Regions from separate parts of the Homo sapiens genome. Here region 1 is linked to region 2. Evidence: fine-mapped expression QTL. A gene starts in region 2. The other region holds a variant in brackets. All regions are shown on one strand. Distances are between the middles of the regions. Region 1 overlaps ZNF584 (zinc finger protein 584). Region 2 holds the start of ZNF132 (zinc finger protein 132).

Region 1 (5,210 bases), 28 kb after region 2:
ACCAAAACCTCTCCTGGCTTCTGCTCTGCTGACTGGAGTCACATCCACCCAGCTGGGCACCCACGACTGTTCATCATCCTCCAGCTGGGTAAACACAGGGGATCTCGAAGGTGCAAGTCCTGCGGGTGACAGGTAGTAAAAGAAACAGGCTGGGCATGGTGGCTGATGCCTGTAATCCCAGCACTTTGGAAAGTGAGGTAGGAGATCACTTAAACCCAGACGTTCGCAACCAGCCTGGGCAACACAGTAAGACCCCAACTCTACAAAAAATATATTATTTTAATTAGCCAGGCATGATGGCATGCACCACCTGTAGTCCCAGTTACTAGGGAGGCCATAGTGAGAGGATCACTTGAGCCTAGGAGGTCAAAGCGTCAGTGAGTCACGATCACACCATTGGACTCTAGCCTGGGCAACAGAGTGAGACCCTGTCTCAAAAACAAACAAACAGGCCGGGCGCAGTGGCTCACGCCTGTAATCCCAGCACTTTGGGAGGCCAAGGTGGGCGGATCACGAGGTCAGGAGATCAAGACTATCCTGGCTAACACGGTGAAACCCCCCTTCTACTAAAAATACAAAAAAATCAGGCGGATGTGGTGACGGGCACCTGTAGTCCCAGCTACTCGGGAGGCTTAGGCAGGAGAATGGCATGAACCTGGGAGGCAGAGCTTGCAGTGAGCTGAGATCACACCACTGCACTCCAGCCTGGGCGACAGTGCGAGACTCTGTCTCAAAAACACAAACAAACAAACAAAAAGAAAAAAAAAAGCCTTTCTATGAAGCAAAACTGACATAACTGAAGAAACAGACTGTTCAGCAATAATAACGATTGTAATTTCCCACCATCAATAACAACAGCAGACTTGAACAACAATGAAAACCAACTAGTCCTAACAGACATCTATAGAGCTTGCCACCTAACAACAGCAGGATATACATTGTCACGTGCACATGGAACGGTCTTCAGAACATACCATTTGCTAGGATATAAAATAAGCCTCGGCTGGGCGCGGTGGCTCATGCCTGTAATCCCAGCACTTTGGGAGGCCGAGACGGGCAGATCATGAGGTCAGGAGATCAAGACCATCCTGGCTAACACAGTGAAACCCCATCTCTACTAAAAATACAAAAAAAAAATTACCCGGGCATGGTGGCAGGCGCCTGTAGTCCCAGCTACTCAGGAGGCTGAGGCAGGAGAATGGCGTGAACCCAGGAGGCAGAGCTTGCAGTGAGCTGAGATCGCGCCACTGCACTCCAGCCTGGGCGACAGAGCAAGACTCTGTCTCAAAATAAATAAATAAATAAATAAAGCAAGCCTCAGTAGATTTCAAAGGATTGAAATAATGTCAAGTATGTTCTCTGTCCACAAATGAATTAAAACAGAAATCAACAACAGAAAGAAATTTAGGAAACTCACAAATTTAAGGAATTTAAACAAAACATTCCTAAAAATCCAGAGTCAAAGAAAAAATAAATCACATGACAATTACAAGTACTTTGGGAGGAATGAAAATAAAAACACAGGGCTGGGTGTGGTGGCTCAAGTGTAATCCCAGCACTTTGGGAGGCCGAGGCAGGTGGATCACAAGGTCAGGAGTTTGAGACCATCCTGCCGAACACAGTGAAGCCCCGTCTCTACTAAAAATACAAAAAAAAATTAGCCAGGCGTGGTGGTGGGCGCCTGTAATCCCAGATACTCGGGAGGCTGAGGCAGGAGAATGGCATGAATCCAGGAGGCGGAGCTTGCAGTGAGCCGAGATAGTGCCACTGCACTCCAGCCTGGGTGACAGAGCAAGACTCCATCTCAAAAAAAGAAAAAAAGAAAAGAAAAGAAAAATACAACAGGCCGGGTGGTGGCTCACGCCTGTAATCCCAGCACTTTGGTAGGCTGAGGTGGGTGGATCACCTGTGGTCTGGAGTTCAAGACCAGCCTGGCCAACATGGCGAAACCCTGTCTCTACCAAAAAAAAAAAATACAAAAATTAGCCAGGTGTGGTGGACCATGCCACTCGGGAGGCTGAGGCAGGAGAATCGCTTGAACTTGGGGGGCGGAGGTTGCAGTGAGCCAAGATCGCACCACTGCACTCCAGCCTGGGAGGCATCAGACTCCACCTCAAAAAAAAAAAAAAATTAGCCAGGCATGGTGGCACATGCCTGTAATCCCAGCGACTTGGGAGGCTGAGGCAGCAGAATTGCTTGAACCCAGGAGGTGGAGATTGCATTGAG[C/T]CGAGATCGCACCATTGCATTCCAGCGTGGGCAACAGGACTCCATCTCAAAAAGAAAAATTAAAAAAAAAGAAAAAGAAAAAGAAAAAAATACCACAACAAACAAAAAATTATGGGATGCAGAAAATGCAGAGCTTAGCAGGAACATTATGGCTATAAATACCCATATTTTAAAAGATCTCAAACCAATAACCTAACTTTATACCTCAAGGAACAAGAAAAAGAAAAACAAACCCAAAGATAGCAAAAGGAGGGAAATAATAAAAATTAGAGCAGAAACGAATGAAACAGATTAGAAAAAGAGAACCGACAAACCAAAATTTGGTTCTTTGAAAAAATCAACAAAATTGGCAAATGTTTACCTAGAGTGACAAAAAACAGAGAGAAGACTCAATACTACTTTGAACAGGAATGGAAAAAGGACATCACTAGTAACCTTATAAAAATTAAAAAATAATGAAATACTATGTACAAATGTATGCCAACAAATTGGATAACTTAGATGAAATGGACAAATTCCCAAGTAGACACAAACTATCAAAACTGAGTCAAGAAGAAACAGAAAATCTAAATACAAATGTAACAAAGAGGGTTTTCTTGTTGTTATTAAAAAACATTCCCCCCAAAACACACACAACCCCAAGCCCTGATGGCTTCAAAGGTGAATACTAACAATACTGAAATAAGAATTAACACCAATACTTAAGAAACTCTTCCAGAAAACAGAAGAGAAGGAAACATTCCCAACTCATCCATTGAGGCCAAAATTACCCTCATACTCAATACAGAGACATTATAAGAAAACTACACCACTGGCTGGGTGTGGTGGCTCACACCTGTAATCTCAGCACTTTGGAGGCCGAGATGGGTGGATCACCTGAGGTCGGGAGTTCAAGACCACCCTGGCCAGGCCGGGCGTGGTGGCTCACGCCTGTAATCCCAGCACTTTGGGAGGCCGAGGCGAGTGGATCATGAGGTCAGGAGATTGAGACCATCCTGGCTAACAAGGTGAAACCCCGTCTCTACTAAAAATACAAAAAATTAGCCGGGCGCGGTGGCGGGCGCCTGTAGTCCCAGCTACTCGGGAGGCTGAGGCAGGAGAATGGCGTGAACCCGGGAAGCGGAGCTTGCAGTGAGTCGAGATTGCGCCACTGCAGTCCGCAGTCCGGCCTGGGCGACAGAGCGAGACTCCGTCTCAAAAAAAAAAAAAAAAAAAAAGACCACCCTGGCCAACATGGTGAAACCCCTGTCTCTACTAAAAATAAAAAAATTAGCCAGGCATAGTGGTGCATGCCTGTAACCCAGCTACTCAGGAGGCGGGGGCAGGAGAATCACTTGAACCCAAGAGGTGGAGGTTGCAATGAGCCGAGATCATGCCACTGAACTCCAGCCTGGGCGACAGAGTAAGACTCTGTCTAAAAAAAAAAAAAAAAAAAAAAACAAGTATTATAAGCCATGACAGGGAATTTATCCCAGTAATGCAAGGTTGAACATATGAAAATCAACAATTAGTGTTGGGAGGCCGACGGGGGCAGATCACGAGGTCAAGAGATCAAGACCATCCTTGCAAACATGGTGAAACCCCATCTCTACGAAAAATACAAAAATTAGCTGGGCGTGGTGGTGCACGCCTATAGTCCCAGCTACTTGGGAGGCTGAGGCAGGAAAATCACTTGAACCCGGGAGGTGGAGGTTGCAGTGAGCCGAGATCGCGCCACTGCACTCCAGCCTGGCGACAGAACAAGACTCCGTCTCAAAAAAAGAAAAGGCAATCAATTATTCTAATATACTACATTAACAGAAGAGAGGACAAAAATCACATGATCATTTCATTAGACATTGGAAAAGCATTTGACAAAATCTAGTGACCTTTCTTTTCTTTTTTTTTTTTGAGACGTAGTTTCACTCTTGTTGCCCAGGCTGGAGTGCAATGGTGCGATCTCAGCTCACTGCAACCTCCACCTCCCAGGTTCAAGCGATTCTCCTGCCTCAGCTTCCCTAGTAGCTGGGATTACAGGCATGTGCCACCACACCTGGCTAGTTTTCTATTTTTAGTAGAGATGGGGTTTCACCATGTTGACCACGCTGGTCTTGAACTCCTGACCTCAGGTAATCCACCTGCCTCGCCCTCCCAAAATGCTGAAATTACAGGCATGAGCCACTGCACCTGGCCATGACTTTTCTTAATAAACACATTAAATGAACTAGAAAGAGAAGGGAACTTCCTCACCTGAAATGGGCATCTGCAAAAAACCAACAGCTAACACCATACTTAACAGTGAAGAATAAAGTACTTAGGAATAAATTTAACGAAAGAAGTACCTTTGTGGCCAGGCGCAGTGGCTCACGCCTGTAATCCCAGCACTTTGAGAGGCCAAGGCAGGCAGATCATGAGGTCCGGAGTTCAAGACCAGCCTGGCCAACAAAGTGAAACCCTGTCTCTACTAAAAATACAAAAATTAGCCAGGCATGGTGGCGCGAGCCTGTAGTCCCAGCTACTCGGGAGACTGAGGCAGGAGAATCGCTTGAACCCTGGAGGCAGAGGTTGTGGTGAGCCGAGATTGCGCCACTGCACTCCAGCCTGGGCAACAGAGTGAGGCTCTGTCTCAAAAAAAAAAAAAAAAAAAAAAAAAAAAAAATTATATATATATATACATATATATATATATATACACACATATATATATATACATATATATATACACATATATACATATATATATACATATATACATATATATACACATATATACATATATACACATATATACACATATATATACACATATATACACATATATACACATATATATACATATATATACATATATATACATATATATACATATATATATACACATATATATATATATATATATATATATATATATATATATATTTCCCAAACCGTTCTGATTAAAATTCATGGCTCAAGCCTGGCCCAGGGAGGTCCCTGTAAAATTTCTTTTGTAGGGAGGCAAAACC
Region 2 (5,210 bases):
TAGCTAAAGGTTTGTAAACGCACCAATCAGCACTCTGTAAAAATGCACCAATCAGCGCTCTGTGTCTCCCTAAAGGTTAGTAAACGCACCAATCAGCGCTCTGTGTCTAGCTAATTGGCTGGGGACTTGGAAAACTTTTCTGTCTAGCTAAAGGATTGTAAATGCACCAATCAGCACTCTGTGTCTAGCTATAGGTTTGTAAACTCACCAATCAGCACTCTGTAAAAATGGACCAATCAGTGCTCTGTAAAATGGACCAATCAGTGCTCTGTAAAATGGACCAATCAGTGCTCTGTATAATGGACCAATCAGCAGGATGTGGGCAGGGCCAAATAGAATAAAAGCTGGCCACCCAAGCCAGCAGCGGCAACCCGCGGGTCCTCTTCCATGCTGTAGAAGCTTTATTCTTTTGCTCTTCGCAATAAATCTTGCTGCTGCTCACTCTTTGGGTCCACACTACCTTTATGAGCTATAACACTCACCACAAAGGTCTGCAGCTTCACTCCTGAAGCCAGCGAGACCACAAACCCACTGGGAGGAACAAACAACATTGGACACGCCACCTTTACGAGCTGTAACACTCATTGCAAAGGTCTGCAGCTTCACTCCTGAGGTCAGCGAGACCACGAACCCACCAGGAGGAATGAACAACTCTGGATGTGCCACCTTTAAGAGCTGTAACACTCACTGCGAAGGTCTGCAGCTTCACTCCTGAAGTCAGCAAGACCACGAACCCACCAGAAGGAAAAAACTCCAGACACATCTGAACATCTGAAGGAACAAACTCCGGACACACCATCTTTAAGAACTGTAACAGGGCCGGGCGCGGTGGCTCACGCCTGTAATCCCAGCACTTTGGGAGGCCGAGGCGGGTGGATCATGAGGTCAGGAGATCGAGACCATCCTGGCTAACAAGGTGAAACCCCGTCTCTACTAAAAATACAAAAAAAAAAAATTAGCCGGGTGCGGTGGCGGGCGCCTGTAGTCCCAGCTGCTCGGGAGGCTGAGGCAGGAGAATGGCGTGAACCCGGGAAGCGGAGCTTGCAGTGAGCCGAGATTGCGCCACTGCAGTCCGCAGTCCGGCCTGGGCGACAGAGCGAGACTCCGTCTCAAAAAAAAAAAAAAAAAAGAACTGTAACACTCAACACGAGGGTCCGCGGCTTTATTCTTGAAGTCAGCGAGACCAAGAACCCAGAGGAAGGAAACAATTCCGGACACAGCAGGACACTGGCCAGTGCCAGGGCCAGCAGCACCTCCCAGAGGGAACAATGGAAAGGCGGAGGAAAACCTAGATTTCATGTGTAGGGGAAAGAGGAGACACAGTAGCCTTACCTAGTGGGCACTGGAGTACAAAGCTCTGTAGTATCATGTCACTGTAGAAGCCCCCTTGGACCTCACTAAGGAGCCCCACATTCTTGGAAGATGTACTGACCCTGTCCTCAAAGGTCATTAAGCCCTGCAACACCAAGCCAATGGGCAGACAGATGTGATCTAAGCACTGAGCGTGAGCCCTAGCCACTGGTCCTCCAACCTAAAACCCTCCTTCCCAAATCCTATCCTCAGGCCGTTCACTGGGCCAGGCCACCAACATAATGCAGTCTGGACGTCCTGAAGCCACACCAGAATTCTATATATCCAGAGGCCCATTTGACACCTCCACTCACAGGTCTCCAGACAATTCAGACTCTATACCTACAAAATCCATCGCTAATCTTCCATGAAACATCCTCCTCCTGCCAACTGCCAACCTCTATTCTCCACAGGAGGCATCCTAATTCTTCCTAACTACTTGGGATGGTCCTTCACCCCTACTCATGCTTATTCCACTTATCTAAGGTAGCAAAAAATTCCATTAGCTCTATCTTGAAGATCCACTGGGAATCTGATCACTTCTCCCATCCTTCTTGCTTCCGTTCTGGACAGGCCACTATCATAACTGTCTGGAACAATACTGCAATAACCTCCCCCACAGTCTCCCTGCTTCCAGCCCCACTACAACCACCTTCTCCAGTAGTGTGTTCATTCAGCAACCACTGAAATACTTTCCAAATTCTAACTCAGGTCATGTCCATCCCTTTTCTGTTCAACACCTTTCATGGCTCCCAGGCGCCCTCGGTGTGCCAGGAGAGGCAGGACTCCTCTTACGCTCTCCACTCGCTGCCAAGGGGGCATGAGAGCCTGCCTGAACGCTCAGGTCAGGGTCAAGTCCAAGTCTTCGCATATGCAGATCCCTCCTCCTGTACCCTCCACGTCTCAACAAACTGGATTCTGAAATGGTGACCCCCAACCTGTGAACGCTCCACACTGTTCAGTGGGGCCCGCAGAGGACCTGGGGCAGATACTTCTCAATCGGAGACTTAGGACAATGGTGCTGAGTCCAGCGGAGTGGGTGCCAGGAGACCTTTGGCGCACGTTCCATGCCTACAGCCGGGCGCACACTGGGTCAAGACCTCCCAATGCGTAGCTTTTCTTGGCCTCGGCCTCGCGCTCCCTAAAGCCAACATAACGCCAAGGGCGACGACTCCCGAGAGCCGCGGACACCTCCGCGCGGTGCAACCTGAGGGTCCCACTGGGCCGGCTTTATCTAAGGCACAGGGTGGGGAAGGGGGGTGCGGTGTTGTGGGGGGCGAACACTGGGCTCAGGGGCGATATTCGCCGCGGTGGGGGCGCTTGTATGTCAAGAAGGCGGAACTTCCCCGACTCTCGTGCCTTCCTCGCTCCTGTTTCCATGGGCCCAGGGAGCCTCCAAGATTCCGTCCCTCGCCTGACAACGCGGTCCCTTCAGAAGCAGACAAAATCGAGAAATGCCAAAGTGATGGTCCGAGGACGACGACGGAAGTCCCGCTGCCAGGCTGTGATTGGCCAGCGTCTTACACTCCGCCCGGAAGTGCCTGTCTCCTCGGCTGCCAATGGCCAGCCCTGAGGCACCGCGAGGGTCCTTCTGGATAATGTAGTTTGCGTTGCCTGAGCAGCGACGCAATAAACGCCATTCCTCAATCACCTTGGCAACGACCTAGCAGTAGCGTGACGGGCATAGGGAAATAGCGTCATAGACGGCGGGGATCCTTGAGCCAATGAAAGCTCGGACCAGTGGCAAGTCCGAGCTGTCATTGAGAGGCGGGACTTCCGGCGCCGCCATTGCGGTCCTCATTTTGCTGCTGGTGGGTTGGGCTACAGCAGGCCTCTGGAGCCACACCAGGGCACGGGAGTGGGTGCAGGGACCGTCACCGCGCCTTCACACGCACCATAGTGCCCGGCTAATTACTCTGCTTTTATGAGCCAAGGTGTTCCCGAAAGTGGAGCCAGCGCCACGCGTCTCCAGGGTCTCCATACCCAGCCTTCGTCCCTGCGGTGCCCAGAGGCCTTGCGCGCATTTTGCATTTGGGAAGACAGGTCCTGAGTGCGACCGTCACCCAGCGGAAGTGTGAGGGTTCGGCCCAGCGGCAGGGCTAGCCCTGGGCCTCCTGTTATGGCCCTGCCCAGCCCACAGGTTCTAATGGGGTTGCCAGCGTTGCTGATGGGCCCGGCGCAGGTAAGTGGAGTGTGCCCCAGGCCCTCACCCGCTGGGATTCCGGCCCTCAGGATCCTGAAGCCCAGATAGAGGGGATGTTGGTGTCCTGGGACTCTTGATCGTGTCCTGTCCTCACACGTGGGTCCTGGGCCCTGCCCTGGGAGTCACTTACCCTTACCATCCTGAATCCAGGCAAGGGGTTATATCGAGGGATTCCCATTTCTGGAATCCTGTGGAATGAGATCTGGAAGGCTGTCCCAGGGACAGTGACCAGCATGTGTACCTTGTTTAGTGGTGATGAAATGGAAGCATTCTGGGGACTGCCGGTCTCCATTTAGTCTGGTGGAAACAGGGAAGGGAAACCAATAGTTAGGCCTGGAATGGCAGCCTGAGGAGCTGGACCTCTATTCTGATGGTGGTGGGAGCCATGGAAGGTTTGGAGTAGAGGAAGTAGGTGCTCTGACTCCAGTCTTAACAGACGCCCTATGGATGCCTAGTGGGCAGCAGACTGGAGGGATGGTGATGGTGGAGCAGGAAGGCCAGTGAGGAGCTGACAGATGTGGTCCAGATGTGTGCTTTGGGTAGCTGGACAGAGGGGTGCCCGTGGAGGTAGGACAGATGGTTGGCTTCTGAATCTGCCCAAACTGGGCCATGGATTACCTGATGTGGGACAGTGAAAGAAAGTGAAATGTTAAGATTGACCTAAGGCTGAGTGCAGTGGCTCACACTTGTAATCCCAGCACTTTGGGAGGCCAAGGCGGCCAGATCACTTGAGGTCAGGAGTTCAAGACCAGCCTGGCCAACGTGGCGAAACCCCACCTCTACTAAAAATACAGAAAAATTAGCCAGGACATGGTAGTGTGCACCTGTAATCCCAGCAACTTGGGAAACTGAGGCAGAAGAACTGTTTGAATCTGGGAGATGGAGGTTGCATTGAGCTGAGATCGTGCCACTGCGCTCCAGCCTGAGTGACAGAGCGAGACTCTGTCTTAAAAAAAAAAAAAAATTGCCGGGCGTGGTGGCTCACGCCTGTAATCCCAGCACTTTGGGAGGCCGAGGCAGGTGGATCACTAGGTCAGGAGATTGAGACCATCCTGGCTAACACGGTGAAACCCCATCTCTACTAAAAATACAAAAAATTAGTCAGGCGTGGTGGTGGGTGCCTGTAGTCCCAGCTACTCGGGAGGCTGAGGCAGGAGAATGGCTTGAACCCGGGAGGCGGAGCTTGCAGTGAGCCAAGATCGCGCCACTGCACTCCAACCTGGGTGACAGAGCGAGACTCTGTCTCAAAAAAAAAAAAAAAAAAATTGACCTTAGATCTTTCAGATGTGGAAGTTGGTGTGAGGAGTAGATTTCAGGGGGAAGATAAAGAGTTGGATTTTGGCCATGTTGTATTTGAGATGTCCCAGACACTACCAAATTGAGGTGCCAAGTAGACCACTAAACATGTGATTATGAAATTATGTCGGGTTTAGGCTGGAAACATCCAAGGGATGGATGCTTGTGTGTGGACACTGCATGCAGTTGTGGGTTGGGTTCAAGATAGTGGCTGAGCCTCCTGAGCAGAGAGTAGGTCTAGGACAACAGTGAAGCATAGCGGCAAAAGTAGGATGAGAGTTGGGCTTTGGTTTAGGTTGATTTGCTTCTCTACAGCTCACTACATTGTTGCGGCCATCCTTCTTGTGGTCAGGGCATGTTA

Evidence for each region. PIP is the estimated chance that this variant, and not a neighbour inherited with it, causes the effect. A credible set is the group of variants that fine-mapping cannot tell apart.
Region 1: its variant is the best candidate, but not a certain one, in a credible set for the expression of ZNF132 in whole blood (TOPMed, PIP 0.56).

The regions. Positions count from the first base shown.
Region 1 is chr19:58,410,433-58,415,642 of GRCh38, reverse strand. ZNF584 (zinc finger protein 584) reads right to left here. Exons shown (of 4, transcript NM_173548.3): 3 at 1-119. Among named protein-coding and RNA genes, the nearest start is that of ZNF584, 4.4 kb to the right of the region's middle. The variant C/T (reference allele first, on the strand shown) is at 2,227.
Region 2 is chr19:58,438,081-58,443,290 of GRCh38, reverse strand. It overlaps ZNF132 (zinc finger protein 132), which reads left to right and starts at 3,138. Exons shown (of 3, transcript NM_003433.4): 1 at 3,138-3,532. The coding sequence starts at 3,470. It overlaps ZNF132-DT (ZNF132 divergent transcript), which reads right to left and starts at 2,843. Exons shown (of 1, transcript NR_186311.1): 1 at 1-2,843. It also overlaps a transcript of ZNF324B not described here. RefSeq lists enhancers at 1,941-2,450, 2,600-2,729, 2,962-3,472.